Linked DNA regions of Homo sapiens. The protein of the gene in region 1 interacts with the protein of each later gene in a pairwise test. Each region holds a gene or a part of one and is shown in the gene's direction. Other genes may lie near its edges. The genes, in order: NINJ2, LDLRAD1, SLC7A8 and VMA21.

What was found.
Region 2: the proteins of NINJ2 (region 1) and LDLRAD1 interact in binary tests that used the Homo sapiens proteins (3 or more experiments, as listed by UniProt).
Region 3: the proteins of NINJ2 (region 1) and SLC7A8 interact in binary tests that used the Homo sapiens proteins (3 or more experiments, as listed by UniProt).
Region 4: the proteins of NINJ2 (region 1) and VMA21 interact in binary tests that used the Homo sapiens proteins (3 or more experiments, as listed by UniProt).

The regions. Positions count from the first base shown.
Region 1 is NC_000012.12:660,433-668,113, reverse strand, and holds the start of NINJ2 (ninjurin-2), read left to right. Parts: upstream 1-4,668; 5' UTR 4,669-4,753; coding exon 4,754-4,786; intron 4,787-7,681. UniProt on the Homo sapiens protein: Its role in unclear. In contrast to NINJ1 paralog, does not mediate plasma membrane rupture (cytolysis) downstream of necroptotic and pyroptotic programmed cell death.
Region 2 is NC_000001.11:54,008,187-54,015,186, reverse strand, and holds part of LDLRAD1 (low-density lipoprotein receptor class A domain-containing protein 1), read left to right. Parts: intron 1-822; coding exon 823-951; intron 952-2,906; coding exon 2,907-3,044; intron 3,045-4,776; coding exon 4,777-4,905; intron 4,906-6,056; coding exon 6,057-6,205; 3' UTR 6,206-7,000.
Region 3 is NC_000014.9:23,180,658-23,188,257, reverse strand, and holds the start of SLC7A8 (large neutral amino acids transporter small subunit 2), read left to right. Parts: upstream 1-4,597; 5' UTR 4,598-5,343; coding exon 5,344-5,494; intron 5,495-7,600. UniProt on the Homo sapiens protein: Associates with SLC3A2 to form a functional heterodimeric complex that translocates small and large neutral amino acids with broad specificity and a stoichiometry of 1:1.
Region 4 is NC_000023.11:151,400,193-151,407,222, forward strand, and holds part of VMA21 (vacuolar ATPase assembly integral membrane protein VMA21), read left to right. Parts: intron 1-3,438; coding exon 3,439-3,548; intron 3,549-4,723; coding exon 4,724-4,866; 3' UTR 4,867-7,030. UniProt on the Homo sapiens protein: Required for the assembly of the V0 complex of the vacuolar ATPase (V-ATPase) in the endoplasmic reticulum.

The DNA.
Region 1 (7,681 bases):
ATTAAACTAAAAGCATTAGATTCTTCTTGCTCTGCTTCAATTTTTTAAAAAGCCAATAATTTCTAGCCCTCAACTTTTACACACTGAAATTCAGACCTGTATCTGAGATTTTATATTGTTACACAGGAAGTATTTAATATAAACTTTTTTTTTTTTTTTTTTTTTTTGAGACAGAGTCTCACTCTGTCACCCAGGCTGGAGCGCAGTGTTGTGGTCTCGGCTCATTGCAACCTCCACCTCCTGGGTTCACGCCATTCTTTTGTGCCTCAGCCTCCCAAATAGCTGGGATTACCGGCATGCACCACCAGGCCCAGCTAATTTTTGTATTTTTAGTAGAGAGGGGTTACACCATGTTGTCCAGGCTGGTCTCAAACTCCTGACCTCAGGTGATCTGCCTACCTCGGTGCTGGATTACAGGTGTGAGCCACGACACCTGGCCAAAACACACATTAGAAACAGAATTTAAGAGCTAGAGGGATCTTAGGAATCAACTCTTTTGATAGCTTCACATTCACAAACAAGAATGTAAGCCCCAGAGAAGTTAAGTGACTTGCCTAAAAACACAGTGACTCAGCACACAGAGAGGAATCCAGGCCACCTGGCTTTCACCCTAGAGCTTTTCCCACAATTCAAAATTAAAGGATCTTCTTGCTGTTGCCTTCTTCAGTACCCTACAACAATGCTTTGCTCCTTCTACATAGCAAGATACCTAGGGTCTCATTGTAGACCCCTCATTCCATGAAACTAGACTCAGAGTAGTTTCTGAGTCACTCTGAGTGTCTACTTATCTGTAAGTTCAAGGATATTCCAAAATATGCTTTCCAAGAGACAGTCTCCCTAAAAATGTCCCTCTGGCTTTACACCACAAAAATCACCCTAGCAGTAAAGAACAATAGAAACCATTTCCACCCACAGTGATAACCTCCACGTAGGTGCAGTTTCAGCACCAGCCAAATGGCAGCAACACTCTTCACTACAGCTTCCCTTGCCATCAGTTGTCTCACCAGGGCGTGCATGTGGTGCTTTTATATCCCCGCAGTGTTTAACCCAATATCCACGTGGTAGAGACTCAGTAGTTGCCTCTCAAGTGGGAATTAGACTTCAAAGACTCTGATTAAATCCTAGAGCAGGGGTCAGCAGACTATAGCCTGTGGAGCCAACTCCGGTCTGTTTTTATGAATATCTGACTCTTTTTGTAAATAAAGTTTTATTGGAACACTCCCACACTCGTTCATTTACATGTTGTCTATGACTGCTTTCACATTATTATAGAAGTGAGTCATCGCAGCAGAAACCATATGACACACAAAGGCTAAAAAATATTGGCTCTCTGGCCCCTTACAGAAAAAGTTTACTGGCTGGGCATGGTGACCCACGCCTGTAATTCCAGCACTTTGAGAGATCGAGGTGAGCGGATCGCTTGAGCTCAGGAGTTTGAGGCCAGCCTGGGCAACATGGCGAAACCCCCGTCTCTACAAAAAATACAGAAATTAGCCAGGCATGGTGGCACGCGCCTGTAATCCCAGCTACTGGGCTGGGGGTTGGGGCCTGAGGTGGGAGGATCACTTAAGCCCAGGAGGCAGAGATTGCAGTGAGCAGAGACTGTGCCACTGCACACCAGCCTGGGTGACAGAGTGAGACCCCGTCTCAAAAAATTAAAATTAAAATTAAAAAAGCTTCATATAGCAATTTGAATTTTATAAAAGGGAAAAATGAAAAAGAAAAACTTTGCTGACCCCTGGTCCAGGGTTACAGCGTGATATGGTAGATAAACCATTTTCCAAAGCCTTTTTTCTGTTTACTTCCAAATGATGCTTATGAGATGGGGAAAGGTCCAAATCCAGAAAGATCTTGCCAAACCAAAACCATTATTATAACCAATTACAGCTGTTTCCTTTTCAAACCAATGTGCTTATTAATAGGAAATTTTTTGAAATATATTCGAGTACTTTTCTCTTTTGCATTTTTTTGTTCCTGTTTCCCTCTATTCAGCCAGATGTATCCATATTATTTAAAAGATAATGAGGATTTTCACAACAGGAGTGCAAAGAGAAATAAATAGTTAATATTTTGCTTCTGGCATCCGAAATAAGGTTTTCCAGAAAGTTTTTTTTTTTTTTTAAGACATGGTCTTGCTTTGTCAACTCAGGCTGGAGTACAGTGTCATGATCATAGCTCACTGCAGCCTTCAGCTCCCAGGCTCAAGCAATCCTCCCACCTCAGCCTCCCAAGTACCTGGGACTACAGGTGCTGCAAGCTGCCACATCTAGCTAAATTAAAAAAAAATTTTTTTTTTGTAGAGACAGGATCTCACTGTGTTTCCCAGGCTGGTCTTGAACCCCTGGGCTCAAGTGACCTCCTGCCTCTACTTCCCACAATGCTGGGATTACAGGTGTGAGCCACCATGTCCAGCCAAAAAGTTCTTCTACAGATGGGATCTCACTATGTTGCTCAAGCTGGTCTTGAACTCCTGGGCTCAAGAGATCCTCCGGCTTTGGCCTCCCGAAGTGCTGGGATCACAGGTATGAGCCATGCTGCCCAGCCAAGACAATATTTTTGACAACCAGGTTTTCTTGAGAGAGAGGATTTTCTAAATTTCTTCATTTCCCTTTGAATTGTTGTCATAGAGTTCTACATCAGATACATCCCAGCCAAACAGGAAAAAAAAAAAAAAAAAGAAGACAAAGCGTACATTTTCTGATTCTAGATTAAGGGGACTATGGGAAGAAGTAATCTCAGCTACTCGGGAGGCTGAGGCAGGAGAATCGTTTGAACCCAGGAGGCAGAAGTTGCAGTGAGCCGAGATGGCGCCACTGCACTCCAGCTTGTGCAACAGAGCGAGACTCCATCTCAAAAAAAAAAAAGTGCTTAGAATAGTGCTTGATACATAGTGGTATTATTATGAGCGGTGGGGTGATAGATATTACTGGTAGACTTTTTAAGGAGTGCTGAGAAGAGTGGGTTCCAGGTCTCATTTCCATTCAGGAATGTGGAAGGAGATCACCTCGCAGACTGCCCTGTGTCAGTTGGAGCAGCCACATCAGAGCAAACTCTGCTGGAAGTGGGGCTGAGCTTGCCTTTCCCCTGCCCTTCGTCAGCAGCCCTCAGTCCCCATGTGCCTAAGGGGGCTCAGGAGCACTGGTCAAGCATCTCACAGGAAAATTTCGAGGGGCTTATCTTAGAGATGTGGGCCACTGAGCGGATACAGTGGGATGGGGGCACATACAAGTCAAAGCCAGGTCTCAGGATGGTCCACATTGCCACGAGCCAAGGTAGCGCAGACAGCAAGGGAGAACACTGGATCTCAAAGGCAGAAAGAGAATCACCCATGAGTGACTCTGGCCTAATATCAGACATCAGCCACCAAGGCCAGCAGAAGACCCAGGAGCAGGACCTGTGTCTCCTCAGCAGTCAGCAATTCGGGCGGGCCCGTGGGCCCAGCAGCTCCAGAACAGAAAGGAGCCGAGATGGAGAGGCCACAGGATAGATGCAAGAACCGTCCCCACCCCGCCCTCCTGTGCACCTAGGTGCCATCTTCTGCAAATCCGAAAGACTGAGCATTGTGTCTAAAGTGGACTGTTTACCATTTAAATGATTAAATCCAACTATGCTTCATAGATTAGACTAAAATATGGCCCCCATCCAATCATCCAACCCTCCCTCGCACCACTGTCCAGAGGGATGGGAACTTATAAAGGCATTTCATAGAACTGAAGAAATCGCCTTTTTTTTTTTTTACATTTGAATGTGGTGAGGGTAAACGTGTTGACTCTGCCTGTCTTCCTCCTGCCCGCACCTCTTCAAGCCCTGAATTGGATTACAGGTTAACACCCTGCCATGCACGTCTACAGACATACCCACACCCACACCTGCACAAGCTTGTGTCTAAACCTTGCTTCAGGAACAAGCCAGAAGAGTTTTGGGCTCTAAGGTAAACAGGAGAGGAAAAAAAAAACTTTCTAAAAAAAGACTCCCTCCTGGTAATTTTATTTTAAAAGTAGGGAGAATACCACTGTTTGCATAAACAAGCTTCGAAGGTACAACTACTCCCTGCTCCCTCTATGGCTAATCAAGGGAGGAGTTGAAGGAATCAAACAATCCGTCAGTAAAAACGTATTGTTCACTCACTTTGCAGAACAAAGCCTATGCTTTGGAGCCTATTAGGTAAACTACAATTTTTTTAAAAACTTTTAGGGATATAGGGAACAAAGCAAAGAACAACGGAAATCCCTCTGCCTCAGTATTGAGACTGTGCTGGAGGTCACTCCACCCGTGGCGACTGGGGACTGGACCCAGCGGTGAAGTCAGATAGCGTTGTCCTCAGGCTGTTTTTCAATTTGCTTGATAAACATGCAGGATTTCTTTGCCAGTCATAAAGCTACTAGCTCAAAGCAGGCTGGGTGACCTCAGATGGCTCCGCTGGGACTGGAAGGTCACTGGAGCCACTGGTGAAAATGATGCTGTCACTACCAACTCAAAAGGTCACCTATCAGTGTGCCATGTGCCACCTCCTGGAGCACACACATGTGCACACACATACACTCACACGTGTGTGCAGGTGCACACCTCCCCCAGAGGCTGCAGCCAAGACGGGCATCCCACATCAGAGGGATGAATGGCAGGTCTGTCCCGCCAGCTGTGTGCTCTCTCCCACCCGAAGAAAGCAGCAGAGACTCAGACGGCGGAGCCTGGAGGAGCCCACGCAGTCTGTTCCCGGCACCCGGTGCGTGTGAAGGGACTTGAGGGCAGCGAGATGGAATCAGCAAGAGAAAACATCGACCTTCAAGTAAGTTCTCTCTGGAAGAGAGCAGAGGGGAGACCGGGAGTAGAGGTGAAGCTGGAAGAACAGAGGATTGATACTTTAGTCACTTGATATTCTCCCTCCCCGTTCTCTTCTTACTCACTCCCTTCTCCAAATGCTCCCTAGGCTTTGTCTCTTTATTTTCTCTTTCTCTCTGTTTCCCTATCTGGTTCTTCACTTGTTTTGAAATATCTGAAAAACAGATTGGTTAACTCCCTTTTGGCCTCTGCTTCCTCTTGTCAGTCAAAGAGCTAATTAGATCCGTATTACCAGAAAATGATTTCACATTCTGAGCAGTGCTTTCCCCAAACCCCAGGACAGTAGAGACTTCTCTTAGAGCTGCCGGGGAGACAGGAAATATATGAGTTTTGAGGCTAGGAAGAGAGGCAGCTGGCCAACTTTGCATTTTACAGGTTGGAAAAAACTTGAGCCGTTTCTCGGCTGTCTTCACAAAGCTCTACTGTGTAGGACAGAAAGCGTCTCATTTGGACAGTGCAAGGAAAGGAAATCAGTCTAATCTCCTAGGAAGAGGCAGAGATGTGTGTCCCTCTGTAGCTGGGATGGGCTTGGAAGGCATCAGAGGTTCCAGTCCACTGCTGGAGGGGAAAGGGTGGGATGTTACGGTGAGAGGAGAGCCAGATTGCTGGGAGCTGCACTCTGTGACTCCTTGCCAATGGATAGAATAGAACGAACCCTTCTATGACCACTGCTGAGGCTGTGTAACATTGCAGAGAATCAAACAAAGTGTGGAAAAGGACTTTTGAGATCAAGAATTTCTGATCCCTGAACCTGGTCCTCGAACAAAATCTTAAGCAGCCACCCAATATACACTTCGGATTAAAGAAGAGCTGTTTTGTTGAAGCAGAGTATGTGCACGCGTCTCTCTCTCTCTCTCTCTCTCTCGTTCTCTGTGTGTGTTTTGGGCAGGGTGGCGTGAGTCTGGCAGAGTCTCTGTCCTTGGCCCCTCCGCCCTTGAGACACCACCAGGGAACTGTAGGACTGCTTGGTGTGCTGTGTCAAAACCATTCACCTAGTACAACTGCATACCCAGTGCTGTTTTCCTGGATTGGCAGCCAGCCCCGAGAGCGGTCCCACCGCAAGGCTTGCTTGTCCCTCTGTCTGGAACCTTCTTTCCCTGGCTTATCTCCTGGCTGGCCCTTCCTAGTACATTCAGGTCTCAGCTCAAATGTTACTTCCCCCAGGAGCCCTCCCCTGACCAACCTCTTCACAGGATGCCTCCTCCCCAATTTGTCTTTATCATTTGTTTAATTTCTTTCATAGCACTGCTCACCACCTAAAGTTACACTGCTTATTTATTTAGTATGTATTGCCTGTCACTCTCACTAGGACACAAGATCTCTGAGGGCAGGGCCTCTCCTGTTTTATTCACTGCTGCAGCCCGAGTGCATGAGGCAACTCTTGGTACACGGTCATTGCTTTAGAAAACATTTGTTAAATGAATGAGTTGAGGAAGCCATGAGTTGGAGAGGCTCTGAGATAGGAATAAGGTCACCTAATTGGCCCAAGACCTCCAGTCCATGTCTTCTGTCCCTAGTATGTGTTTTCTTCTTACTTCTAGTTCTTGCCTCTATAAGATCCTTGGTTGTTAAGGAAATTGTGTTGCTGCTTATTTTCATTCTCAGAAGAGCAAGTTTCTTATGTGCTGATGGGTTGAACGATCCAGAGTTACAGGCTAAGGACTCTGCATCTGAACCAGAGGTTCAGAAGGAAAGAGGTGGTGGGAGGAAGGAGAAGGAAATGACTGGCTAGGCTGGATGAATGTCTCTCTCTAGCAGGTAACTGAGGTGTTAGTGTACCTTTCTCTTCATTTGTCATTCACTCTCTTCTAATATGCTATTTAATTCTTGTATCTTACATTTTCCTTTGCTCAGAAGGTTATCCATTATTTTCTACAATTTATTGTCCACCTTTGGCTGGGCACGGTGGCCTACGCCTGTAATCCTAGCATTTTGGAGGCTGAGGCAGGAGGATCACTTGAGCTCAAGAGCTAGAGATCAGCCTGGGCAACATAGCAAGACCCTATCTCTATTAAAAATTTAAAAGTAATTAGCTAGGCATGGTGGCATGCACCTGTAGTCCCCACTACTCGGGAGGCTGAGGTGGGAGGATTGTTTGAAGCCAGGAGTTCAAGGTTGCAGTGAGCTACAATCATGCCATTGCACTCCAGCCTGGGCGGCAGAGCCAGACCCTATCTCTAAAAACAAAACAATAACACTCTTTAGTTAAAACAATGTTTCCCCAAAATGTGGTACAATTATCACCAATGGGTGGTAAAGGTACATCAATGGCTGACAGCTTTTTATTATAATGTTTATTTTTACAGTTTTTTTTGAGATGGAGTCTCACTCTGTCGCCTAGGGTGGAGTGTAGTGGCAAAATCTCAGCTCACTGCAACCTCCGCCTCCTGGGTTCAAGTGATTCTCCTGCCTCAGCTTCCCAAGTAGCTGGGATTATAGGCATGTACCACCACACTTGGCTAATTTTCATATTTTTAGTAGAGACAGGGTTTCATCATATTGGCCAGGCTAGTCTTGCACTCCTGACCTCAAATGATCCACAAGCCTCGGCCTCCCAAAGTGCTGGGATTACAGGTGTGAGCCACCATAGCTGGCCATCTTTATAGTTTCAGTATTCATTAGAAAGAGCATAACAGGGCCGGGCTAGGTGGCTCACGCCTGTAACCCCAGCACTTTGGGAGTCTGAGGTGGGCGGATCACGAGGTCAGGGGTTGCAGACCATCCTGGCCAACATAGTGAAACCCTGTCTCTACTAAAAATACAAAAATTAGCTAGGCGTGGTGGTGTACGCCTGTAGTCCCAGCTACTCAGGAGGCTGAGGCAGGAGAGTTGCTTGAACCTG
Region 2 (7,000 bases), on another chromosome or scaffold:
GGTGCAGTGAACTAGATTGCACCATTGCACTGCAGCCTGGGCAACAGAGCCAGACCCTATCTCTAAAATATAAAAAATAATAATTAAAAAAAGCAATAATAATAGCTCATACTCAACACTTACTCTGTGCACATTAACTCAACAAATTCTAATCCTCTCAACAAAGTCTAAGGTAGCTATTATGGTACCCATTTTCCACATGAGGAAACTGAGGCACAGGGAAGTGAAGTGGCTTACTCAGTGTGGCCCAGGTAGGATGCGGTAGAGCTGGGATTCCAACCTGCATCCCAGCAGACTCCAGAATGGACAGTCAATTGGGATCGTGGAAAGGGCACGGGTTTTGGCATCAAACAGGTGTGGATTCACACGCCAGCTCCACCCAGGGTGACATGAATCTTTTCTTCCTGAGCCCTAGTTTCCTCATTGATAAAATAAAAGGTTGTTTTGAAAAATAAAGCACGCTTATGAAGGGCCTAATGGAGCTTCTGCCCCAAGGTGGGGGCTGGACATGCAGGCGTCCATCTCTCCCTGCGTCCTGAGGAAGTCTCCTGATGGCGGGTGGGAGGGGAGGGCTGTCCGCCTCTGCCATTCAGCCAGCTGTGGGCCCCTGGCCAGGGTGGCACCTAGTGGGGTGGGCCCACAGGCAGAACAAAGAGCATCAAGGAGGGCTTGGGAGCTGCTCCTCCAGGGAAGCCATCCCTGCTCTGCTCACCCTCGTGGGGGAGAGGCTGCTTGCAGCGGGCAGGGCGGAGAGGGAGCTCCCTGTTCCTAGCGCTGGCCCCCTATCACCACCACCCCCGGGCTTGTTTCCCCCCCACACAGCAGGCGGCGGCCACCTCTGCTGCTCACGTCGCGGGGCCTGCCTCTCTGCCTCTCTGCTGCTCCTCCTGGCAACTGTGGCGGCCCTCATCGCCTTGGTCACCATTCTTGGACTCCCATCATGCACCCCAGGTCAGGGCGGCCAAGAGAGGGTGGGTCAGACCCGGCGGGGAGGGCATGGGAGGGCACAGAGAGATGAGGGAGCCCCGACCTGCCTGGCTTCTCCACCAGGTGACTTTGGACTAATTCCTTAAGGTGCATGCACAGACACACACAGACACCTGCACACACACTGACTATACCTGTTTCTGAGCCTCCATTTGCACATCTGTGACATGATTATTGAGAGGACCCAGCTCTGATGTCACCTCCTCCAGGATGCCTTCCTAGACCCCCAGGATGGGTTACGAGCCTCTTCTCAGCCCCCCAGTCCCTACACTTCCTCTTCCCCTGGCCTGGCCACCCCGGGGTGGTGCTATCCAACTGTGTGCCCATCTCCACCACAGGGGACCGGGTGACATCCCATACATGCCTGCAGCCCCAGCTTCAGGGGTGAACAACCCCAACACAGTGCCTGCCTTCAAGGAGCTAATAACTGTTCCGAGAGCCGTCTAGACGTGAATACACATTACAGCGGGGTCCCTGGGAGCCCTGAGAGTCTAGCCCCATTGAGGAGTCAGGGTAGGAACAATGGGTATTAGTAGTGGGGGGATGCCAGGAAAAGCATCCCAGGCACAGGGAACAGCATGTGTGGAGCCCTGAGGGGTGGGAGGAAGCAGGAAGAGAAGAAGAGACTGCAAGAGGCCAGTGCACAGGAAGGGCTGGAGTGACAAGTGGGGCCCAGTGCCAAGGGCCTCACAGGCTGCACCGAGAAGGGAGGTCATAGTCCAGGAGCCACAGAAAGGGGATTAAGTTGGGGGCAAGTTGGGGGCAGGCTGATGTTTCTGAAGGATGGCTCTGCAGCCAGGCAGGGTGGGTATAGAGGGCTGAGGTGGGGGCGGGGGCTGAGATTCGCAGCGCTCCCCCTGCCCTGCAGGAACACAGACCCTGAGGTGGATGAATACATGAGCAGCTGCAGTCAAGAGCCTGTGTGCACATCTGTGTGTTTAGCGTGTCTATGAGTGTACGCAGCTGTGTATGCATGTTCATGTCTGTGTGTCAGTGCGTGTGTGCACATCTGTTGTCTGTGTATCTGTGAGTGTGCACATAGGTGCAGCAGTGTGTGTGTGAGCATGTGTTCATGTGTGTGTGCATCTGTGTGTGTCTGTGTCAACATGAGTGTCTCTGAGAGTTGCTCCCCCCCGCCGCCTCCCCCACACACACTAGCTGAGGCAGCCCAGGGACTGAGAGGTGGTTCACGCATGCACAAACACAAATGCACAAACTGGCTCCCATCCCCAATTATGCACACGTATACACATGTGGGGCCAAGGGGTTCCTCCTACCTTGTCCGTAGGTTTCTGCCTTTTAATTCTTTGGGGCAGCCCTAGGAGTGGGTATTCCTTTTCTCCTCCCATATGGGGGGCTAATGATGACGTGTCGCAGGGGTGTTTGGGGAACTATAGAATAAAGATATGAAAGTGCTTTGCAGTTGTGCCCAGATAGAAGGAATTATGACATATGGCCCTCCAGCCAGCCCAAATATATTGCTTCTGACACTCTAACCTGGTACCAGGAGCTCCACCATTAAAACCACTTCACTGAATTGAACATTGTCCTCAGAAGCTTCCCATGACACTGTAAATAAGTTTTCAATACAAGAGAGAACCATTACTAGTTCTGCACATTTTCTGTTCTATGTTTCTTCACAGAGATGCTTTCATTTAATCCCCACAACAGTCCCACGGGGTGTGTGCTATGATTCCCATGTTGCAAACAACCTGAGACTCAGGGTGGTCAGGTCATCTGCCCAAGATCAGGCAGCCGGCAGCGGGTACAGCTGGGGCTTGAACCCCATTGATGGCGCTGGGTCCATCCTCCCCACTGCCCCAGCCCCTCAGGCCAGCTCTAGGCGGAGTTCAGGTGAGGAAGGTTTGTCCTTGTGAGCACCACCCTTGACCCTCCAGGGCCTTTCCCTGCCCATTCAGGAGCCCAAGCTTGTATAACACTGACAAACAGGACAGGCTTCTTGTGCCATGACCAGAGGAGCTGCATTCCAGCCAGTGGGGTCTGTGATGGCGTTCGCACCTGTACCCACGGCGAGGACGAGGATGAGAGCTTGTGCCGTGAGTACCCGCTCGGTGCTGCCCCTCCCAGGGGTTCCCCCACACTCCGATGCTCTTGGCATCCATACTGAACACATCAGGCACCTTCAAGTCCCCATGGCTTTGATGCTCCAGTGCCTTCATCCAGGAACACCTGCCCCGACCTGGTCCCAGTCAGGGACACACATACATGCCCCCACTAAGGAATGCCTTCACCCTGTGCGTCTCCACTCCCAGAGAACCCGTATTCATCCCTCAAGGCAGAGTTCAAATGTTACCTCCTCCAGGAAGCCTTCCCTGACTCCCACACTAGGTTAAAGTGTCTCCTTTGGGCTTCCACAGTCCCTGTGATTCCCTGTGTCCCAGCCCTTGTCACACTGGTTGTCGCTCTTGATTGGCACATCTGCCACCCCCATCAGACTGTGAACTCCTCTGAGGCAGGCCCAGTCCGCTTGATATCGGGGCCCCAGTGCCTAGCACAGAGGGGTATTCAGAACGGCTTGCTGAATGAATGAGCGAATGAATGAATGGGAAGACCTGGCCCCAGACCTTAGACACACCTGAAGGTTCTCAGGAGAGAGGAGCCTGACCCCACAGGAGAGAGAGAGCCTGGAGAGGTGCAGTGGGTGGGGTGGGGGAGCTCATGGAGGGAGAGTCATTGCATCACAGACCCTCAGGACAAGAAGCAATCTCAAAAGCATCTAGTCCTTGCCCCAGCTCATCCCCAATCCCCTCTCTAGCAAGCCCAACCGAGGCCACCCAGCCTCTGCTTGCATCCCAGGGGATGCAAGGATTGGAAGGTTTTTCCATGGGAAGGTTTTCCTTGTCCCAGGCTTAGAGCTGCCTCCCAGAGTGGTTCCTCCCTGATTGGTTCCAACTCTGTCCTTCTGTCAACCCTGCCCCGATAGACCACACTTTAATTTCTGCCATGATGGTGGTGCTGCATGGATTTGAAGATTGCTCCCTTGCCCTCCATGAGGTTTCTCTTCTCTACGCCACATCCCCTTCTCCAGGTCACAGTCAGCCCCCTTGTGACCCAGTTCCTGGCCCTCCCCACTCCATCAATGCTCCACAGAATGAATATCAACTTCCCATGTCCCCGTCCCTGGACAGGCCTCAGAAACATCCTCAGCCCTTCTAGCTGGGTCTGGGCAGTCTAACGAACAGAATCTTGCTCCCTCCCTGCCCAAGGTTTTCTACCTCTAGTGATGTGGCCTGAGTTTGTGTGAATTTTTGATAGCCCTATCACACTGCTGCCTAACAGAACACACTTTCAAGAAAGGTGCTCTGACTCTGCCTTACAAGGTGTGTGAACCCTAGATCTTCCCCTGAGATCCGGGGCCCAACTGTAAGACTCCACATTTATTCCTGTGATGTTCCAGTTGGAAGAGGCTTCCTGGAGGTGATGGAACTTGAACCTGAACTTGAAAGAATGGTTTTGGATAGGTGTCAAGGAGGCTCTTTGTGGAGGGGGGCATAGTGTCAGCAGTGGTGTGGGGCAGGAACACACCAGAGCTGGGGAGGAACTGAGGAAGGGAGGGGCAGATCTCTGGGCCTCTGTCCAGCAACGGAGCTCTCCTCTCCCTCTGACTCCACCACCTCCCCAGGAAACCTTCTGCTTGCACCCTTCTGGGCTGGATGGGCACTGATCCTGAGTTTGGCCACTGCCAGGGTGGTCAATCCTCCTCCCGATAACCCTCAGACAGCTGTGGCCAGATGTGGACTTCTTCCTGCCTCCTCTGTACCTCTACAGGAGATGTGCCCCAGAGCCTCCCCCACTTCCTTGTGGCCCACTGTGGAGACCCGGCCTCCTGGATCTACTCAGACCAAAAATGTGATGGCACTAACAACTGCGGGGACTGTTCAGATGAACTGAGCCCAGGTAGGGGTCTGGGCACAGGCTGGGCTGGGGCTGGTGTCCAGGCAGCAGCCAGAGGGCAAAGGGTGAGCAGGGAATCTCTAGGGCTCCCCCTTGCATGCTTCCCTGCATCCTAGGAAGGAGTTTTCTACCCCTGCTTGAATACATCCTGTGATGGGGTACTCACTACCACTCCAAGTGACTTTTTCTGGAGGCTCATTCTTCTGCAGTGGGGAAGTCACCTTCAAAGGCACAGATGAGAAAACTGGGTCCCAGAAGGTGGTCATGCAAGGAGTACATACATGGCCCAGCTGGGATTTGAACCTGGGGTTCCCTTATCTCTGCACCTCCCAGTGACCCTGTGAGGAAAGCAGGGCAGGAATCACTGGCCCCAATTTGTATGTAAGTAAATGGAGGCTTTGAGAGGAGAAACTTAGTACAATGTGTGACAGGAAGGGAGCTCAGGTGTGAACCCAGGCCTCCTGATCCAAGTCCCGAGTCCTGTAGCTGCCCTAGAGTTTCCTCTCAATCTCTTCCCCAGTGGTCAATCAACAAACATGTTCTGAGCATTGGTGGGGTGCTCAGAACGCACCTGGTATCAGATTCAGGTGGGGGACATCAGGAATCAGGCATGTGTCCTACCCCCAGGACTCACATCATGCTGATGCCGAAAGGAGGTGCTGGGGACCTGGAGGAATCAAGGGAGATTTCTCAGAAGAGGTAGCATTCAAGAAGACCAAGAATAGACGGGTTTCAGTAGGTAGAGGCTGGGTGTGTGGGGAGGAATGCCGGAGGCCTGAGCAGAGGAGAGAAGGCTAGGAGCACCCTCAGGCAGTCATGGCAGGTGAGCATAGCTGGACTCAGGGTAAGGAAGGGCACCCATTCATATTGCAGTCTTTACCGTGTGCCTGGGACTTTGCCTGACATCCTTTGCTTGATAACAAGCTTGAGCACACTAGGAAACAGTTTCAGACAGGGTGAGGGAGGTCACATAGCCTGTGAGCTGTGGAGTCTAGATTCTCTCTGCCGCAGGAAAACTAGGAACACACTCAACTCACGTCAGATGGGTTGGGGCCATGGGGAGCTACGGCAGGTTTCAGAACTAGGGAGTGCCCTGGTGCACAGAGCGTTCCAGGACACAGCAACTGCTCTCCTGCTGGCTCTTGTCTCTGCAGTAACTGTGTGCCCACCCTGCGGCCCTGGGTGGTGGCGCTGTCCTTCAACCTTCTTCAAGTACTGCGACTGTATACCGAGGCATCTCTGCCGCGACCATGTACAGCACTGCTCCGACTGGTCCGATGAGTATGCCTGTCCCGGACCCTGAGTGGGCCACTCAGGCCAGCATGGAAGGCTGGCTGGAATGGCACTGATAACCCTTCACATGAAAATCAAATCCTAGCGCACAAGGGCAGGAAGCAGCCTTTGAAATGGGATCTACACATCATTTCTGAATAGGAATTTTCTCTCCTCCTTTCAAGTTGTTCAGCCTCTGCTTGAATGCTTCCAATGACCAGGAGCTCATTACCATGTTAGGTGGCTTCTAACAAAGATGATGTGGTGGAACCCCGTCTCTACCAAAAATACAAAAATTAGCCAGGCATGGCGGTGCACACCTATAGTCCCAGCTACTAGGGAGGCTGAGGTGGGAGGACTGTGTGAACCCAGGAGGTCAAGGCTGCAGTGAGCTGTGACCACACCACTGCACTCCAGCCTGAGCAACACAGTGAGACCCTGTCTCAAAAAAAAAATGAAACAAAACACAAACACAAACAAAGACGAAGGGAATCTGCTTCCATGATTTCATGCCTGTCTCTGGGGCCACACAGAGGAAATCTGCTAACTGCTCCAAGGCATACTTGTGGATCCTAATCTCGTCATCCCTTAGAGTGATGACATGTCTGGGGCTTAAATGACAAGCCGAGTTTAGCCTTCATGGATGGCACATACGTGAAACATATGCCACTTCCTACCCCTTTGGTACCTAAGGCAGATATACTGGGCTTGGATGCAACTTTAGCATCTTCCCCAGTTTAGTTAACCCAGCAGGCTCTACTGATTTAACCAAGTGACACAGCACATGAAACAGGATATCTGGCATCCTACCAGTGGGAAGCCACCC
Region 3 (7,600 bases), on another chromosome or scaffold:
GGGCTGGCTCCATGGAATCCCACCAAGTGCAGCAGACAGAGGAGTAATCTGTTGGAATTTTTGTCTCTGGTGTCAGAGCAAGGATTCATCATTATCTCCAGAAGAGCTGAATTAATTAACCATCATAACAAAGCAGGGTCAGCTGCATCCAAATTCTCAGGACTGCATAAACCCTAGAAGACACAACTTCCTTTGAACTTATGAATATGCCCAAAAGGCAAACAGAGCATACACTAAAAAGGGCTTAATCACTGACCGAGTCTCCTCATTTCATCTTCCTTTCTTTCTGACCTATTTTGGCCTTTTCTTTTTTTAATTTTTTCTTCTTTTCTCATTAATTTTCATCTGCTTTTCATTTTCTAATGAAGTAAAGGCATCTAAAACTACTGGCTCAGGAAGGCCCCATCTAATCGACCATAGGCAGTGATCCCTGGGACTCTGGGAAGAAAGTTGGCTTTAATTTAAAGCAGGGTTTCCTTCTGCTTTAAACTAAAGCACATAGATATGGGGCACATAGTTACGAGAAGAAGGATGGAGTGAGCGCATGGACTGTGAGTTGACTCCAGGGAGAGATTTGGGTCCTTTGTTGGTAACCTCAGACTTCCCAGCTCTGTTACAAAAAGCAAGAATAAAGTGCTGTCTATTGGATCTAGAAAAAAAAATCAGGAATGGAGTGCATGAGCTTTGTGCTCTATTCCTTTGCATTAGCAGACACGTCTAACTTGTCTCTGAAAGGGAATATTAACCCGGGTGTGGTGGCGCACATCTGTAGTCCCAGCTACTCGGGAGGCTGAGGCGGGAGGATCACTTGAGCCCAGGAGTTTGAGGCTGCTGTGAGCTGTGATTGTGCCACTACACTCCAGCCTGGGTGACAGAGTGAGACCTTGTCTCTAAAAAAGGGGGGAGTAGGGGAATATTAGAACATGACTGCGTGGGGGTTGTGTGTGTTTGTGTTTTAACTATCACAAGCAGCATGTCCCAAGCCATAACCTTTTCTGTCCAGTAGGTGTCAGCTACGCACAGCCTTTCTCTTTCTAAATCCATATTTGTAAGAAAACGGCCTTTCATCCATAATTTTCCCTAGTTAAAGGGATCAATTTCTTCTGATCTGAAGCACGCAAAACAGCTGAAACAGTGGCTCCGATATTGGAAACAGAATTGTACTACGTACTTGGGATATGGCCACACTGAGGACTGTGCGAAGGGGGTGACAAATGTTGGGGGGGCCCAGGTGAAGTCCTGTGGGTCTCACTGAGCAGATAAGTGTTAGGATCAAGGTGAGTCTCTAAAAGGCACAGTTAAGACACCAAAGCAAAAACACAGAGTTTCCCTCAGGTGAAAGAAATTGAGGCTTTGACCAGTAGCTATAGCATCCTGAAAAAGTGCTCAGTGTAAACTATCAATCTCCCATTTGCCCTCAAATAGACTGTCTTGTTTTTTACCTCAGGTAAAATATTTCTTTAAGCCTCAGGTTTCTAATTTTTAAAATCTTTAAGATAACTGCCTCGTCTGCCCAAGATACTACATGAGGAGGAAAAAAATTGAGATATTGTTCAGAAAACCATTTGTGGGCTATAAAGCACTATTTAAACGTAGAGAATAGAATAAAAATATAAAGGCAAATGCAGAATAGAGTAATCCCAGCACTTTGGGAGGCCGAGGCGGGTGGATCACAAGGTTAGGAGTTCAAGACGAGCCTAACCAACAGGGTGAAACCCCGTCTCTACTAAAAACACAAAAATTAGCCAGGCATGGTGGCAGGTGCCTGTAATCCCAGCTACTTAGGAGGCTGAGGCAGGAGAATCACTTGAACCTAGGAGCCAGAGGTTGCAGTGAGCCGAGAGCCGAGATCGCACCACTGCAGTCCGGCCAGAGCAGCAGAGCGAGACTCCTTCTCAAAAAAAAAAAAAATGCTCAAAATTTAATAAACATTAGTTTGTAATTTTTTACAGATTTTTGTCAACATATTACACCAAGGCTTTTCTTTCTCTCTTGTGTTCAATGTTAGTCACCTGGAATTTTGACACACTTAAGAGTTTATGTCACAAAAAGATTCCAACCTACAGAGAGGCACTTAATATAAATAATGCTCCCTTTGAAAGTGGGGAGATTCCTTTCCTAGCTTTGTTTGTTTGTTTGTTTTGGTTTGGTTTTTTTAAAGACAGGGTCTCACTTTGCCACCCAGGCTGGAGTGCAGTGGTGCGATCTTGGCTCATTGCAGCCTCAACCTCCATGGCTCACACGATCCTCCCACCTCAGCCTCCTGAGTAGCTGGGATTACAGGCGTGAGCCACCACACCCAGCTAATTTTTGTATTTTTTGTAGAGATGGGGTTTCACCACATTGCCCAGTCTGGTCTTGAACTCCTGAGTTCAAGCACTCCACCTGCTTCGGCCTCCCAAAGTGCTGGAATTACAGGCATGAGCCACCGTGCCCAGCCCCTTTCCTAGATATTACATCGCACCAGTAATCAATGGTAATAAGCCACTTATAAATTCCAAGTGCTAAAGAAATAGAAATACTAATCTTCAGCAACTCTTCCTTTCCAACGTGTGCACCTAGTACCGCTGTATTCCAAGAACGTATTTGATCCCATAACCCCCTTAGCTTCTTAGTTCATAATTTGAGAGGGCTAAAGCTTACCATATCGTTATCAGTTTGCACTGGTTTTAGCAAGAGACCTCAAATTCATCACATTCATGTTTTATCCCACATTAAGTCTGCATCATATAAATTAGAACTACCAAATATTACTGAAAGAACTCACGTTTAAGAAGCAGAAACATTATTTGTTTTATATGGTGATGTTGAAATCGGAGCAGAAGTCTTCAAATCTGAATGTATACAAATGAATCTATCAAATTTTTCCTCAGTGCTTTCTAAGGTTGTCAGGAAAGGCTAGAGGCAAATTCGACATTTTTTCATTTCCCATGACTCATTCCCTCCCATGGAGTTTCGTGCTATATATTCCCTGCCTTGTCTGGTTTTTTTTGTTGTTGTTTGTTGTTTTTTTTTTGCTGAGTCTTTCAATTTGCTGTGTCTTGAACTAGCAAAAGGAGGAGAGGAAGTTCCTCCCAACCTTTGAAACCTCTTAATACTTGCTGAGTGATCAAGGGGGCAGATGACTGCTGATTGGACTTTACCCCATTTGAAAAAGCTTTTGCTATGATAGCTCAACAAACCTCATTTTAAGGAATTAAGTATTTATTTTCCTTAAAACCCAAAATCTTTTGGAACATTTTCCAGAAAGTGAGGCCAAATTTTTGTAGTTAGGGGTCAGTTTGGGGGAACTTAATTTTTTAGGCCCACTTTAAAATTAAATAATTTTGCATAATATATTTAATAAGGCTAAAAATAACTTTATTTTAGACTTATAGTGTTGTCCACTATATTGCTTCATGCTGTTTTTTCGAAATAATTTACAATTATAAATAGACATTGTTGCTCTCACCTTAAGGCAGCAGTTTCTGAGTGAAATTCTTCAAGAAAGTGGAGGCATCATTTCGATATGGTAATAAGCTAGTTATTCTAACATCAACAAGTATGTTTCATGATCAGCGATATACTGATAATTCCCCATGTGTGCTTTTCAAATAGTTTATAAATGCAAAAATATTAGAAGTTGCAGGATCAGGGTTTGAGTCATTTTTTTTCATGTTTCAGCCAGTCCTAAATAAGAGCTGTGAACAACAAGGCTACCTGGTGATTTTGTTTTTTATCTTTTTGTATGTGCATGTGGTTTTTCTGGCTTTTTGTTTTGTTTTGTTTTTGAGACAGGGTCTTGCTCTACCTCCCAGGCTGGAGTGCAGTGGCGTCATCATAGCTCACTGCAGCCTTGACCTCCTGAGCTCAAGCAATCCTCCAGCCTCAGCCTCCTGAGTAGCTAAGACTACAGGCCTGCACCACTGCACCCGGCTAATTTTAAAATTTTTAGTAGACGGGGTCTCGCTCTGTTGCACAGGCTGGTCTCAGACTCCTGGGCTCACGTGATCCTCCCCTGTCAGCCTCCCAAAGCGCTGGGATTACAGGCGTGAGCCACCGCGCCTGGCGATTTTGTTTCCTCTGTACTCTTCGTAGCTCACAATTACGCTAAAAGAACCTTTTTCCCATTGTTAATTCCTTCCATTTCCCTCCCCCACCCGTCGATTCCCCCTATTTTTAGGAAACTCGAAGATGATGTCCTTTCAACGTTCTCTCCTGTATTCTCAAATACAGGATCCAGTCCTAAATATTTTTTAATACATTGGCTAGTTTATTTCTGATGGCATTAAAAGTATCGGCACAACTGTTCCCTGATTTATAAAGCTCACAGATGCTGTATGACCTGTAACATTATACTAGCTAATGAGCTCTCCCGGAACAGTTGACGTGGAAGGAGTTTACTTCCACTTGGTTGCAAGGAGAAAGATGGAGAAAGCGAGAGACGATTGCAAAAAGAAATAACTTAGTCCATTTTCTCAGTGCTGTTTGGGGGCTTTGTGCTAATACTTAAATTGCAGAGGAGGGAGGAGACGGGACTGAGGATGGAGGGGAGCAGAGGAGGCAGGGGCGGAGCCTCGGCGGGCGAATAAAACCCCTCGCTAAAGAGAAGCACGTTAGTGTGTGGAGAAGCCACTCTCCCGAAACCAGAGGGATGGGGCCGGCTGTGCAGTAGAACGGGGATCGAAAAGAGGAAAACAAGGGCACGAAGACCAGCGAGAAAGAAGAGGACACCTGGGAAAGGCGGAAGCAGAAGACGGGGAAGGGAAAAGAAACCCAAAGCAGGTGGAAACCAGATCTAGAGCAACACCGTCAGGTTCACAGTTTGTTTTTCTAGAAGAGAAGAAAGTACCTGAGGATTGCTCTTTTTTCCTACCGTTAATGAAAACTACTTTTGTCTTCATCATAAAAGAAAAAACTAAGGGGAGGTAAAGGCAGTCTCCTGTTTTATTAGGGGGAGAGGTGAAGGGAAATCCAGGCTCACTTTCTGAATAAGCCACTGCCTGGTGCACAGAGCAGAACCATCCTGGTTTCTGAAGACACATCCCTTTCAGCAGAATTCCAGCCGGAGTCGCTGGCACAGTTCTATTTTTATATTTAAATGTATGTCTCCCCTGGCCTTTTTTTTTTTTTTTTTTTTTAGCAACACTTTTCTTGTTTGTAAACGCGAGTGACCAGAAAGTGTGAATGCGGAGTAGGAATATTTTTCGTGTTCTCTTTTATCTGCTTGCCTTTTTTAGAGAGTAGCAGTGGTTCCTATTTCGGAAAAGGACGTTCTAATTCAAAGCTCTCTCCCAATATATTTACACGAATACGCATTTAGAAAGGGAGGCAGCTTTTGAGGTTGCAATCCTACTGAGAAGGATGGAAGAAGGAGCCAGGCACCGAAACAACACCGAAAAGAAACACCCAGGTGGGGGCGAGTCGGACGCCAGCCCCGAGGCTGGTTCCGGAGGGGGCGGAGTAGCCCTGAAGAAAGAGATCGGATTGGTCAGTGCCTGTGGTATCATCGTAGGTGAGTTCCATTCCTTCCCGCGGACCCCTCCTCTCCCCTCTGGTGGTCCTCCTGTGAGATCTTAACCCTTCGAAAGCATTATTGTTCTTCCTATTCCTTAGAAAAGGATTGTCAGTCACCTGAGCTGTAACTCACCTCCACTGGTCAAGTTTGAGAGGCATAGGAAATACATCATACATCTCTTCCTCCAAACCAGGCAAAGATTCTGCCCAGTGTTCATAGAATGGAGCAAATCGTGGTCAGAAACCCGGCTGATGATTAGCATTGCCTGGGAACTCCTTAAAAATACAGGTCCTGGTCTCGACACTTGGAGGTTCTAGTTCAATAGGTTTAAGGAGGGACTGAGGGACCTGAACAAGTTTGTATGCAGCTATTATTCCCAGGCTGGGGATGGGCTTTTAAGGTATATTTGGTAGCTATTTTGCAGTTTTATGTTAAATGAAACTATGGGATAGGTATTAAAAATAGCAAGAGCAATGCCCTGCCTTTTTATTTTAGCGTTTTCCACCTTATGCAGCACTTTTACTGTGTGAAGTAGCTGTGACAGGGCTGTTATTCCCATTTCACAGATGGGGAAGTTATGGAAGAAAAGAGGGGACAGATTGTGCCTCTCGGTAAGTGGAGAGTTTGCAGTTTCTCCAGTTGCCTGGTGGGGTCCACCTGTTTCTTAACAGCCACGGAGGACCCGGTGAAGCTCTCAGAGGGAATCAGGAGTAACTAGAATGTGTAGAATATGGAGTTGAGGAGGAACTGATGGGTAAAATATGTGTCCTAGCTGGGAGGTGCTGAAGGTGGGGAACCTGGGTGGCCCCAAGAGTGCCAGTGCAGGCCACTCAAACCCCCTGAATGTACTTTGCAGGGCAGGAGTCCCAAATACAGCTTCGTCTCTAGACAGCACATCCTCTTTCCAGAGAAGCCTTGGAGATGGATGGCAGGCAATAGCTCACTATTCCTGCCCTCACTTCAGAGTGAGAGATTGTTCTGCTATCTTTGGTAGGGGGCTTTACTTTCTTCCCAGAAAAAGGAGTGCAGGACGGTCAGGCATAGATATGCTTCTTTGTCATCTCTCCAGAGTTCCTTTATGAGAGCTCGTTGTGTCCTGGTGCCCCTGAACCAGTTTCTCTGGCTGACGCCATGTTCTATGCAATAGCTCAGAGATATTTTGGCATCTGAGCAATAGTGACACTGGAGAGCACTCTTGAAATCAAATAAAATCAGTGCAGTATTCAGATAATCCTCTTCACCTCTACACCCAGAACTTCAGTGACCAAGCTCTCTTCAGTCTCTAAAATGAAATCCCATCCCCCCCCCACCCCCACCAACTCCTCCTACACCCTGGAATCCTATTTTATGTGATTCCCTGACTCTGGGAAGTTTTCCAGGCCATCTACAGTTATAAGAAAGATAATGTTATAAGAAAAATTGTAGTCATGATCTGAATCTCTCTTTACTTTTTCTCATGACATTTTTTTTGCCTCTCCTTTACTTTATCTCAATTGTTCAAAAGAAATGAGAACAGCCAAGTATTCAGTATGTATAGCACATGCCAGTTTAAGGTCTATAAATAGCCCGTTCACCAATTTGACTGACAGAATTAAGCATTTTCCCCCTCTAGGAAGGTTCTGACTTATACACAGATGCGCACGCCCACAGGCACACAAGCACAATTAAACATCCTTCCTGCCTCAGCCTGGCTCGCCCTTCCCAATATAGGTTCAGGTATTCTTTTTTTTTGTTCAGACGGAGTCTCGCTCTGTGGCCCAGGCTGGAGTGCAGTGGCGCGATCTCGGCTCACTGCAAGCTCCGCCTCCCGGGTTCACGCCATTCTCCTGCCTCAGCCTCCCGAGTAGCTGGGACTACAGGCGCCCACCACCACGCCCTGCTAATTTTTTTTGTATTTTTAGTAGAGACGGGGTTTCACCGTGTTAACCAGGATGGTCTCGATCTCCAGGTTCAGGTATTCAAGGGTAGAGGGTATTTTCCTATATACTGATGTTTTTGTCTCTTCCTTTAACATCTTTTTCTAAGATTATGAAGAAATGGGAGTGTTCAGGTATAATAAGTACAATTTCTGTGGGTATATGTTACTACTGATTTGTCCACAAC
Region 4 (7,030 bases), on another chromosome or scaffold:
CCAGCCTCCCACCCCCACCGCCATGGTAACTACTGTTTTATTCTCTGTCCCTGTGTAGTTGACCGTTGACCTTTTTTTTTTTTTTTTAAAGATTCCACATATAAGTGAGCTCATGTAGTATTCGTCTTTCTGCGTTTGGCTTATTTTACTTAACATGTCTTCCAGGTCCATCCATGTTGTGGCAAATGGCAGATGTCCTCTTTTAAGGCTGAATAAAATATTCCCTTGTATATATACACTACGGTTTCTTTATTTTGTCTGTCTACATACACGTAGGTTGTTTTCAAATCTTGGCTATTGTGAATAATGCTGCAATGAACATGGAAGTGCAGATATTTTTACGAGGTAGTGATTTCATCTCCTTTGCTTATATTCCAGAAGAGAGATTGCTGGGCTGTGTGGTAGTTCTATTTTTAATTTCTTTAGGAACTGTTTTCCATAATGGCTGTACCAGTCTACATTTCCAGTCACAATGTAGTAGGGTTTCTTTTTCTCCACACTTTTACAAACATTTGTTATCACTTGCCTTTTTGATAATAGCTGTCCTTAGAAGTGTGAGGTTATATCTCATAGTGGTTTTGATTTGCATTTCCCTGATGATTTAGTGATGTTGAGCACATTTTCATTTATCTCTTGGCCATTTTTATGTCTTTGGAGAAATGTCTGTCCAGCTGTTGTCCATATTTTAATCAGGTGGTTTTTCTGCTGAGTTGTAAGAGTTCTTTATAAATTTTGGGGTATTAACCCCTTACAAGATAGGTGGTTCGCAAATATGTTTTCCTAGTCTGTAAGCTGCCTTTTCATTTTGTTGATTGTTTCCTTTGCAGTACAGAAGCTTTTTAGTTTGATGCAAGCCGCTTTATTTTTTCTTTTGTAGCCTGAGCTTTTGGTGTGATATCCAAAAAATCATTACTGAGGCCAATGTTAAGGACCTTTCCCTCTGTGTTCTTTTATGTCTTAAAACTTTATATCTTTATGTTTTAGTTATTTTATCCATTTTGGGTTGATTTTTGTTTATGGTGTAAGAGTCCAGTTTTTTTCTTTGCATGTAGAAATCCTGTTTTCCCAGTACCACTTATTGAAGGGACTGTCCTTTCCCCATTGTGTTCCTCTTAACACCCCTGTCGAAGATTAGTTGGCCATATATGTTTGGATTTATTTCTGGGCTCTATTCTGTTTCATTGTTATATGTTTCTGTTTTTATGCCAATACCATATTGTTTTGATTACTATAACTGTAATATTTTAAATCAGAAAGTGTGATGCTTACAACTTTTTCAATGTTGCTTTGGCTATTTGGGGCTTTTTGTGGTTCTGTATGATGAATTTTAGGATTGTTTTTCTATTTTAATGAAGAATGCTACTGTAATTTTGATAGAGATTGTGTTATATCTGTATGTTGCTTTGGGTGCTGTAGACATTTCAACAGTATTAATTCTTCCAATCCATGAACACAGGATATCTTTACATTTATTTGTGTCATCTTCAATTTCTTTCATCAGTGTTTTATACTTTTCAGTGTACAAGTCACTCATCGCCTTGGTTAAATTTATTCCTAAGTTTCTTTTTTTTTGAAATAGAGTCTTGCTCTGTCACCCAGGCCAGAGTAAAGTGCCCCAATCACTGCTCACTGCAGCCTTGACCTCTGGGGCTCAAACAATCCTCCCACTTCAGCCTCTTGAGTAGCTGAGATTACAGGCACGTGCCACCATGCCCAGCGAATTATCAAAATTTTTTTTTGTAGAGGTGGGGTTTTGCTGTGTTACCTAGGCTTGCGTCAAACTCCCGGCCTCAAGCCTCAGCCTTCCCAAAGTGCTGGGATTACAGGCATGAGCCACTGAGCCTGGCCCCTAAGTATTTTTTTTTAATGCTATTATAAATGAGATTGTTTTCTTGATTTCTTTTTCAGCTCAGTAAAGGATGCGGAAGTTTGTCAAGTGCTTTTTCTGCATCAACTGAGATGATCCTACTTGGTCATAATATATAATCTTTTTGATGTATTGGTTTTGTTTGTTTGTGACAGAGTCTTGCTCTGTTGCCCAGACTGGAGTGTGATTTTGGCTCATTGCAACCTCTGCCTCCCAGGATCAAGGGATTCTTGTGCCTTGGCCTCCCAAGTAGCTGGGACTATAGGCACACGCCACCACTCTCAGCTAATTTTTGTATTTTTAGTAGAGACTGGGTTTTGCCATGTTGGCCAGGCTGATCTCGAACTCCTGGCCTCAAGTGATCCGCCTGCCTCGGCCTCCCAAAGTGCTGGGATTACAGGTGTGAGCCACCACACCTGGCCTGATTATTGTTGAATTTGGTTTGAAAATATGTTATTGAGGAATTTTGCACCAGTGTTCATCAGTGATGTTGTCCTGTAGTTTTCTTGCTGTGTCTGTCTGGCTTAGGTATCAAGGTGATTGGAGCCTCTTAAAACGTGTTTGGAAGTATTCCCTCTAGCTCGATTTTTCACCCATAACAGAAGTTCCTATTCCAGCTGGGGAGGGCGCACTGGTCCGTTCGCCCTGCCTACCTCCTTCAGTGGTCTGGTGTCTGGTGCTGGTGGTCAGGGTTGCTGCACGGGCTCAGGGACTGGTGTGGCAGTGGCTTCCCTGGGCCAAAGCTCTGATCCCAGTGGGGGAGGGCACGCTGGTGCGTCGGCTCCACCTGGTTAGTTTGCTGGTCCACTGTCTGGTGCTGGAGGACAGGAGGCTGGCAGCTTTCCCAGATGCAAGCTCCGATTCCAGCGGGAGAGGGCACACTGCTCCACCTGTGGTGCCTGCCGAGTTCCCTGGTCTGGTGTCCGGTGCTGGTGGTCAGGGTTGCTGCGTGGGCTCAGGGACCAGTGTGACAGTGGCTTCCCTGGGCAAAAGCTCTGATTCCAGTGTGGGAGGGTGCACAGGTGTGTCTGCCTCGTTAGTTCCCTGGTCCACTGTCTCATGCTGGAGGACAGCAAGCTGGTCGCTTCCCGTGACGGAAGCTCTGATTCCAGCAAAAGAGGGCGCGCTGATCCACCCATGGTGCCTGCTGCGTTCCCAGCTCTGGTGTCTGGTGCTGGTGGACACGGTTGCCGCATGGGTTGGGCACTGGTGCCGCTGTCCGCCGTGGCTTCCCTGGGTAAAAGCTCCAGTTCCAGAGGCAGGGGCACTGAGTTTCTTCACTTAGTTTGTTCACCCAGCTTGTTGGCAGTTGATCTGAGGTGCCCTGACGCTTCGTCTTACACTGGATATGAATGACAGTCCCTAAAGGTGGTGTATAATCTTCATGTTCCAGCTCAAGAAATTCCCACTACCCACAGCTGGTTCTCTAGGATCTTCGGATTACGAGTCCCTGCCTGTGATCTTCCTCCTGCATAGCATCTCATTTGTGGATGTTTATAGTTTCAGGGACATAAGAGCGTTTGGATATGACTGTGCAGGTTCTGATTTTCTCTTTGTTTACTTTATTCCAGAAATGAAAGCTCATTAGCATCTACACTGAAGACGCTCCTGTTCTTCACAGCTTTAATGATCACTGTTCCTATTGGGTTATATTTCACAACTAAATCTTACATATTTGAAGGTAATCTTAGACCCATTAAAACAAGATGTTTTCCCCCAATTTAAGATTCTGTGCTTTTATGACCTCTTTATATCTTTAAACTGGGTATTCTTATTTTTTTCTTGTTTAGCTTTTCAAAAAATCATATTGCTCATAATGAGTCTTTATGAAATAACTTATTGTTTCAGCTTGACAGTTTTCCTATGGTTTTCTGTGAAATAGCTTGCAAATCCTTTCTCTTAGTACCTTTTAAAGAATAGGGGTTGGCTGACATGGGAGGAGGAATTTTGGGGGAATGGACTTTAGTGTCAGATAACGGAAGGAAGAGAGAATGAAGTCCCCTTTTTGATGTTGAAATTTTTTTTTTTTTTTTGAGACAGTTTCACTCTTGTTGCACAGGCTGGAGTGCAATGGCGCGATCTCGGCTCACCGCAACCCCCGCCTCCCATGTTCAAGCGATTCTCCTGTCTCAGCCTCCTGAGTATCTGGGATTACAGGCACCCGCCACTACACCCGACTGATTTTTGGTATTTTTAGTAGAGACGGGGTTTCGCCATGTTGGCCAGGCTGGTCTCGAACTCGTGACCTCAGGTGATCCACCCGCCTCGGCCTCCCAGAGTGCTGGGATTACAAGCGTGAGCCACCGCACCCGGCCTGAAGTCTTTATAATTATGGTTTTGTTTAAAACAATGTTTGTTTGTTTGTTTGTTTGTTTTTGAGACGGAGTCTCGCTCAGTCACCCAGGCTGGAGTGCAGTGGTGCGATCTCGGCTCGCGTCAAGCTCTGCCTCCCAGGTTCACGCCATTCTGCTGCCTCAGCCTCCCGAGTAGCTGGGACTACAGGCGCCTGCCACTACGCCTGGCTAATTTTTTTTGTATTTTTAGTAGAGACGGGGTTTCACGGTGCTAGCCAGGATGGTTTCCATCTCCTGACCTCGTGATCTGCCCGTCTTGGCCTCCCAAAGTGCTGGGATTACAGGCGTGAGCCACTGCACCCGGCCAACATAATGTTCTTAATATATAGAAGGTACTCATATCTTTTAGTGAATACTTTATTCATTACCACCCAAAATATTACTTTTTAATTGCCTGACTAGTTAAATAAATACATCATAAAAATTAGGATGCTTTGTTTTTTTTTTTTGTACTTTGGTAAATTTTGCAATAAAATGGAAACTGTTTTTTTTCTCTTGATAGGCGCCCTTGGGATGTCCAATAGGGACAGCTATTTTTACGCTGCTATTGTTGCAGTGGTCGCCGTCCATGTGGTGCTGGCCCTCTTTGTGTATGTGGCCTGGAATGAAGGCTCACGACAGTGGCGTGAAGGCAAACAGGATTAAAGTGAACATCACCTTTTTATAGCATTAAATTCATTTTTTAAAATGATAAATGCTGGAGGGGGCCATCTGATTTGAATAAAGTTGAAAGAACATGTTAAAGTCAGTCTTAAGGAGTCACGTTTGAGTATGTAAATTTTGATCTTTCTAATATGTTGGTTTGTATATTCAGTTTTAACTGTATGAATCTGATTTGCAAATGAGAATTTGGAAAAGTTAGTTACAAAGAAATATGTTAATTTAATTAGACAATACTCTGGAAGGAATTTTATCTTCTTTCAACAAAACATGTTTTATAGTATTCTGACTTACGGTTGCTTTTGAGTTTTACTCATTTGGATATATTAAGATGCACACAGTGAAGCAAATTAAACTCCACTTTACGCTGGAATGCTTTCTTTAGCATGAAAATACCAGGTCCTTGGATTTGGGATTTTAATTTCCTATGGAAAGTTGCTTAAATTGTGGACACTGGAATTAATCTGAATGTCACTGAGGAATTTCACATGAAGTGTAATCCCTAGTCAATAAGAATTATCCATTACATTATTTTATGGGAAAACTAGGCTAAATTACATCCATTCAGGTAAAAGGACCTTAGCTTACTGAAGGATCTAAAGAGCAAAGCAAAGATCTCACTACTCAAACACTCAGCCTGCTTCCTTCAAGTCCCCTTGCAGGCCAGCTTTGTGCTTTGCAGACCAACTTTTTAATGAGATACTTTGCTTCCTCATTCAACATTGAAGCTAGGCTTCAATTAAAAGGTTCGAGGAAGCTCCATTTAAAATTGTTTTTTTTACTATTTTTTAAAATTGTAGTGTATATGATAGGAATTTGCATTTAAATATGTTCATTTTTGCATATGTTAGGAGTGGAAACAATCTGGAAAACATTTTTTTTTCATCCAAAAAGTATTCTCCTTGGGCATATCTGATGGAAAAAAACCTTGATTTTATTTTCGTATCTTTAGTCTGTGTTCTTTCTAGTTATTTGGTACTAATTATGTGCAATCTAAAAACACTCCCACAAGTATTTGTTTTTTAATTATAAAATCATAGTATATGTTCTTTGTAGAAAACTGGAAAAATACATATTCAAACAGGAAAAAAAATCAAAATTCCCCATAATGTTGCCATCTAAAAATAACCTCTATTTTAGTTGATATCCCGTATTCATTTTTGAAAGCCATTCCTTAATGCTAGTTTGATACACACTAAAAGTTTAGCTTACAAGTTCAAATTCTGCCAGCTTTTCCTGACAGCTATTTGCATTTTTTTCAGATGAGTGATTATTGGCCATTTTCTTTTTCTTTTTCTTTATTTTATTTATTTATTTTTTTGAGACAGAGTTTTGCTCTGTTGCCCAGGCTGGAGTGCAGTGGTGCAATCTCGGCTCACTGCAACCTCTGCCTCCTGGGTTCAAGTGATTCTCCACCTCAGCCTCCCAAGTAGCTGGGACTACGGATGCCTGCCACCACGCCTGGCTAATTTTTTTTTGTATTTTTTTGTAGAGACGGGGTTTCACCATGTTGTCCAGGCTAATCTTGAACTTGTGACCTCAGGTGATCCACCCGCCTCGGCCTCCGAAAGTGCTGGGATTACAGGCGTGAGCTACCACGCCCGGCCTTATTGACCATTTTCTAAATAAGCACATTCTATCTTTATTCTCTTAAAATTCAAATTTTCTGTTACTGATAATCCTAATACTAGGATTCTTGCTTAAGTATGTGAAACCATTACCGATTTGTTGTTCACATTTATTTTTTATGTTGTGAAACTGGACTAAAGGAATAGAGGGATGATTAGTCATAAAAGTCAAATAGCATTTGTGTTTAACTGTTGAGAAAAGTGAAAGATCAGTATGATTATTATGGAACTGTTTTTAATTCTTGCTTAAAGACTACAATTTTAGTATAATGACATTTGAGTCTAGGGTAGTATGTGGTAGATTTCTAGATGGTCCCTAATTAAGAAGTATTGTTGTATTTAGAATTGTCCACCTAATTTCTTTTTATATAATGCCAAGGTATTTCTTGTGCTTTTGGGATCTTATGCTGTTTGTAAAATGTTACTGTCCAATGTTGGATTATTGTTTTGGTTTCAGGCATTTGCTGAATAGGTGATGATACATGGGTATTTTTCTGCAAGTATTTAAACCAGGGGCATAT